Homo sapiens: one gene and its partner. Changing the gene in region 1 together with any one later gene gives a genetic interaction. Each region holds a gene or a part of one and is shown in the gene's direction. Other genes may lie near its edges.

Evidence for each region.
Region 2: changes in GAGE13 (region 1) and FLT3 together harm fitness less than expected from each alone (positive genetic interaction), as found in Homo sapiens cells (one study listed by BioGRID).

What each region holds. Positions count from the first base shown.
Region 1 is NC_000023.11:49,334,547-49,337,312, forward strand, and holds part of GAGE13 (G antigen 13), read left to right. Parts: intron 1-1,700; coding exon 1,701-1,826; intron 1,827-2,766.
Region 2 is NC_000013.11:28,052,077-28,055,908, reverse strand, and holds part of FLT3 (receptor-type tyrosine-protein kinase FLT3 precursor), read left to right. Parts: intron 1-2,985; exon of another isoform or gene 2,986-3,077; intron 3,078-3,234; coding exon 3,235-3,364; intron 3,365-3,832. UniProt on the Homo sapiens protein: Tyrosine-protein kinase that acts as a cell-surface receptor for the cytokine FLT3LG and regulates differentiation, proliferation and survival of hematopoietic progenitor cells and of dendritic cells.

The sequences.
Region 1 (2,766 bases):
CATTATACATGTCCTGTGGTTTATCCTTAGATTGTCATTTAGGAGAAAGGTCTAAAGCTGGGCTGAATGCCATGCACTCATAGTCCCAGCTACTTGGGAGGCCGAGGTGAGAGGATTGCTTGAGTCCTGGAGTTCAAGCCCAGCCTGGGAAACACAGTGAGACCTCATCGCTAATAAATACATAAATGAATAAATAAATAAATACATAAATAAATTCATTAAATAAGTAAAGTTTTCATGGTATAGGAAAACACAGATGCAAAGTTTTTGTGCCTAGTGGCTGGTAATGTTGCAAACGTAACTCCTTAGTGAACTGTACCACTTAAAAATAGTTAAGATGGTAAATTTTAGGATATCTGTATTTTTTACCACAATTGGAAATTCCTTTCTTCCTAAAGTTCAGTGCAGTTATCATGTATTCTTTTAAATTTTTACTGTATGTATCTTCAAGACATAGCATTCATAGAAAATTTGCAAGAATAGTACAATGAACTCATATACTGTTCATCTGGATTCACCAATTGTTAATAGCTTTCGCTTCATCAGTTTCACATCTCTTCCCTCCGTCTCTTACCGTGCTGCCCACACACTCACACACACACACACACACATACATACGGATATATGTTTACTGTTATTAATGCTGAATTGTCTCGATAAAGTTTCAGGTATTATGGTCCTTTACCCTATGTACTTGAGGGTGTGTATATCGTCAGAACAAAGAGAAAGTCATTTCTTGGATCATCACTGCACAAAGATGAAAATCAGGAAATTTAACAATGAGAAAATGGAGTCATTTAATACAGAGTGCATACTCAAATTTTGCCAGTTCCCCAGAAAATTTCTTTTTTCCTTTTTTTTTTCTTTGTTGAGACGGAGTCTCTCTCTGTGGGCCAGGTTGGAGTGCAGTAGTGCGATCTCGGCTCACTGCAACCCACACCTCCCAGGTTCTAGGGATTCTCATGCCTCAGCCTCCCGTGTAGCTGGGACTACAGGCGCCGGCCACTGCGGGCTTGAACTTCTGGCCTCACCTGCTCTGCCCACCTTGGCATCCCAAAATGTTTGGATTGCAGGCGTGAGACCCCACGCCCGGCCCAGATAATTTTATTGATAGGATTTCTTTTTCTGATCCAGAGTCCAGTTCAGAATCACACCTTGCATGTGCTTTTCAGGTGTTTTTAGTTTCCTTTAACCTGTAATGTTTCCTTAATTTTTCTTGTCATTCACGATACGGACATTTTTGGAGAGGATAGACCAGTTGGTTTGCAGAATATTCTGCAGTTTGGGCTTTTTCATGTATTTTTAAAAGAGTTTTCTCACTCAGCGTTTATTGGTGGCTACTCATGCCATGTAAGAGTCTAAGCGCTAGGAGTGTAAGTGCTGTGAGAGACGGGATTTGAGCCTTGAGTCATTTAATACGAGAAGGACAATCAGAAGTAGAATAAGAGAGAAGTGCAAAGGAGGCAGCAAAGTTGTCTGAGGGCAGTCTTCGGAAAGGAAGAGGGTAATATTTGGAACACCTTGTTTTCCTGTTTTCTGCTAACGGACTCCTGAAATAATGTTCCTGGGATTCTTATCAACACATTTATTATTATGTTAGCTAAAGCTTTTATATAATAATACCGAGAGCGTGAATATTATTTTCTTATTCATGCGTTATGTTTTACTGCTTAAATTGATACGTATTTTTTATTTTTAAGGGCCGAAGCCTGAAGCTGATAGCCAGGAACAGGGTCACCCACAGACTGGGTGTGAGTGTGAAGATGGTCCTGATGGGCAGGAGATGGACCCGCCAAATCCAGAGGAGGTGAAAACGCCTGAAGAAGGTAGGCAATCCATTAGGCATGCACATTGTAGGGTGTCTGTTTCCACAGTATCATATTGTAAGTCTTACTATGTTTTTGAGACGGAGTCTCGCTCTGAAGACCAGGCTGGAGTGCAGTGGTGCCATCTCGGCTCACAGGAAATTCTGTCTCCAGGGTTCAAGTGATTCTCCTGCCTGAGCCTCTGGCGGAGCCGGGCTTACAGGCGGGCTCCGCCGCGCCCAGCTAATTGTTGTATTTTTAGTAGAGACAGGGTTTCGTTATGTTGCACAGGTTGTTCCCAAACTCCTGACCTCAGGTGATCCACCTGCCTCGACCATTGAAATTGCCGGGATTACAGGCGAGAGCCACCGTGCCCGACCCAGCATTATATTTTTAATAACAGAGAGGTAACAATACTGCGTCTTTAGTAACAGACTTCTTATATAAAGGTTATTTGAAACGTAGTTCAGGCCCCAGCACCCGACTGATAGACTGTCAGATAGGGAAACAAACTGAGTCAAAGCTATGTTGAATTAAAAGTTTTGAGTATAAATCCTTAAACCAGTAGCTCACAATTTTCAGATGCTTTTGTAAAGGTCTGCTTTTAATCAATACATAACACGTTTGTAACACCCATCACTTGGTGTGAAAAATGCTGAAGCACTCATGCGGGTTCTAATACCAGCTCTTACAGCCTTGGCGAGATTCTGAGTGAGTCCTTTCCCTTCTAAACCTATCTTTGGTTCTTATGAAAATAGTGAGTTTAAGTCAGAGACTTTAAAACCATTTTGCATTCCGTTTCTTTCATACTCTGATCCTGTTGCATAGAATGCGTGGGACACAGAGATCATCTGCTTCGCATGGTTTGTTAATCACAAATCATGAAACCCTGGCCCGAGTCATCTGAAAATCTCTGAATTGAGATTTCATTGTCAGTAAGACAGTGAGCGGGCCCTCTGCT
Region 2 (3,832 bases), on another chromosome or scaffold:
CCTGCCCCCTTTCTAGTCCCTCACCGCCTCTGTGGGACAGTAAATACGTGCCCCAGGTTGGATGAAGCTAGGACGTTTCTTGTTCTCTACTTCTCTTCCTCTTTCTCCTTTTTTCTCTCCTTTTAAAATTTTCTTGCCAAGTATAAACAGTTGTATAAGGTAAGTGGGCATCTGCTGTGTCTCTGTTATACTTAGGGTATATTCCTTTCACTTAAGATTTACAATGTAAAAATGTAACAACAGTTATTCAGGTAAATTATAACTTATTTTTAGCATTCTGCAAGGTGGTGGGATCCAAAAAATAGGTGGGAGAGATGTGGCAACAGTCAGTGTGAAAAAGAGGAAAGGGTTTAGTCAACCACAAGCTCAGTATTAACCACCAGCGTGGCATGGTTGCCAAAAAAGTAAATTTGAACCTTGGCAGTGTTCATGAAAATATAACGTCTAAATTAAGGAAATTAATAGAAGCTTATTCATTTCAGTTCTACTTTTTTAAAGATGAATACTGACAAAATGAGCAACCAGGATAGTGGAAAACTTGGAATTCTTTAAATTAGGAGCAGTTGAAGGAATTGGGAATGTGTAGTATATAGAAGGAAATGTTTTGAGGAGACGATAAGATTGATTGCAGTGTAATGCAGAGGAAATTCTTTTGGGATTTGAGTCAGGAAACCTGAGCTAACTAGTTAAAGTACCTTGTATGGTAATTATCTCCCTTGATCTCGGTTTCTGATTTTAAATATTTGAAAGATTTTCATATGGAATCAAAGCTAGACTTTAAAAAAGTTGCTCTAGAGGATATGATAAGAACCAATTGTTAGAAATTACAGGGAGAAAAAGTAAAAATCACCTCAAGATGGGAAAAAATACTTGCAGTTCACAATCAACAAAGGATTAATAGTCATAATATGTAAAGTCAATAAGATAAACAATCTATATAAGTCAATAAGTCAATAAGAAAAACGAACAAAATGAAAACCTAGTAGAGCAATGAACAAAGGACATGAGTAGGCATTTCATTTTTGGAACATGAAACCTAAATGGTCAAGAAACATGTTAAAAGATAAACTTAGGCACTTTAAAGTTGTAAAGAGTATATTTGAGCAGAAAGCAATTCATGAATCAGGCAGTACCAGATGGCAAGCAGGTGGGCTCCAGTGAGGAGATTCAAGGGTAAGACTTCTTTCTATAATGTGTTCCCGGAAGCAAGACAAAGAAAAAATTTGATTGTTTAAAGAAGGACAGTCCCTGGATTGGTCAGTTTGCAGTTCCTCATTGATTAAGCTAAGTTGCATTTTGCTGCTCATATTGAATTGGGTTTGTTTTTTGCTTTTTGTTGTTGTTGTTTTTGTAGAGACGGGGTTTTGGCATGTTACCTAGGCTGGTCTCGAACTCCTGGGCTCAAGCGATCCTCCCGCCTCACCCTCCCTAAGTGCTGGGATTACAGGCGTGAGCCACCTTGCCCGGCCTTTATTCTTTTCCTTTTTTTTTTTTTGAGTTGTGTTGTGATTTGTTTACCTAGGAACTCAAGCTGTTAGAGTTGTCTCAGCCTAATGGACTCCCAATTAATTATTTTAACACATGTTAAATTAATAATGGAGAAATTAAATTAAGACCACAATGAAATACCATTTTATACTTGCTGGATTGCTGAAAATTAAGAAGTCTTGGTAAGTCTATAAAGCAATAGGTGCTCTCATATCCTGCTGTGTAACATAAATTAGTATAACCACTTTGGAAAACAAATGATCATTATGTGTAAGGCTGAATGTGCTCATACCATGTAGACCAGCAGTTCCACTCTTAAGAATGTTATTAAGGAAACTGTTATACACATGCCTCAGTACAAATGTGTAGAATGTTCAGAGCACATGGTTGATCATACAAAAAACTGTGGCCGGGTGTGGTGGCTCATACCTGTAATCCAAGCACTTTGGGAGGCCAAGGCAGGAAGATCACTTGAGCCTGGGAGGTTGAGGCTGTAGTGAGCTGAGATTGCACCACTGCACTCCAGCCTGGGTGACAGAGACCCTGTCTCACACACACACACGGAAGGAAACAACCCAAATGTCTACTGCAAGAAAATGAAAAAATAATGATATATTTACCAATAGAATATTATGTAGCAGTAAAAAAAAAAATGAATAAAGTATAGCTACATGTAAAACCATGGATGAATTTTAAAAACATAAGGTTGGATGAAAAAATGAAGTTGTAGAAGTTACATATTGATTGATAACACTATTTTGAAGCTCAAGAATGAAAAAATCAATATATTGTTTAGTGCCACATATTTATTTGGTATAACTACTTTGAAGAGTCCTCGAATAATCAACAAAATTCAGGATAAAGGATACGTGCAGTTGAGAGGTGGGGAGAAGCATAAAAGTAGATCAAAAGGTATTTATTAATATTCTAGTTATTAGGTGGATAGTGGCTCCGTGGGTATTTGTTGTTGTTATGCTTTGAAATTTACACTCCATATATTCTTTCATATATATATATATATATCAAACAGTACATAGTATTTTCAAACAAAATTTATTGTAAGGAGAGAGGCTGGAATTCAGTATAGGGAAACTTTCTTTAAAAAAAAAAAAGTTTGTCAGAAATTAGAATGACCTGCCCTGGGAGGTCATGAACTCCAGTCTCTAGAAGAGTCAAAGTAGAAGTAGAAAGTTTATGTTAGAAATAGCTGGGAGTGAAGGATGGTGTGTGTGTGTGTGTGTGTGTGATCCAGGGTGAGTGGGAGGCTCAACTAAACCTCTTAAGTTCTGTTGCAATTCCAACTCCACCCTACCATGTTTCTTCTGTCTTTCTAAATCTTAGTATATTTCTGCCTAGTTGCAGATCAAATTATAGGAAGAAAGTTGAGGTCTAAACTATGTGTTAAACAAGGGTTTAAGCCATATGTTATTGCTAATTTCCTTTTTCCTGTGCCTATCAATATTTGTATTTTCACATGGCTTCACTCGACTACTTTAGTTAGCTGTGGATTTGTGAAATACCCAAAGAAATTGGCCAAGAGGAGAAATGTTCAAGTTGACACTGCAGCCACAGCTAAATTTAATATAATGGTTGGTTTGCTTTTGATGCCTTTATTATGAAAAAAGAAAAAAATATGTATACGTAATGGTTGAGAACTTTTCATAATGACATAGAATCCTTTTCTGAGGGGCTGCTAAGAGAATTATTTTTAAAATAGTAAAATGTTAATAACTTATGATGCTTTAGATACCCTGCTTTACACATTAAGAAGACCTTACTTTAGAAAAATGGAAAACCAGGACGCCCTGGTCTGCATATCTGAGAGCGTTCCAGAGCCGATCGTGGAATGGGTGCTTTGCGATTCACAGGGGGAAAGGTATGACACATCCATGGTAGCTGCTATTCTCATAATTTCCTTTTGGCCTTTTTCTAATGTAGTTGACATCAAGCTGTATGTAAAATTTAATTTATGCTCATTTAAACAGGAAACTTTGGCTTCTTAAAGTTAAAAAATGGCCAGTATAGGGCCGGGTGAAGTGGCTCACGCCTGTAATCCCAGCATTTCGGGAGGCCAAGGTGGACAGATCACTTGAGGTCAGGAGTTTGAGACCAGCCTGGCCAACATGGTGAAACCCCATCTCTACTAAAAATACAAAAAATTAACTGGGTGTGGTGGCAGGCACCTAAAATACCAGCTACTCTGGAGGCTGAGGCAGGAGAATCTCTTGAACCTGGGAGGCAAAGGTTGTGGTGAGCCAAGATCACGCCATTGCACTCCAGCCTGGGCAACAAGAGCGAAACTCCGTCTCAAAAAATAAATAAATAAAATTAAAAAAATAAAATA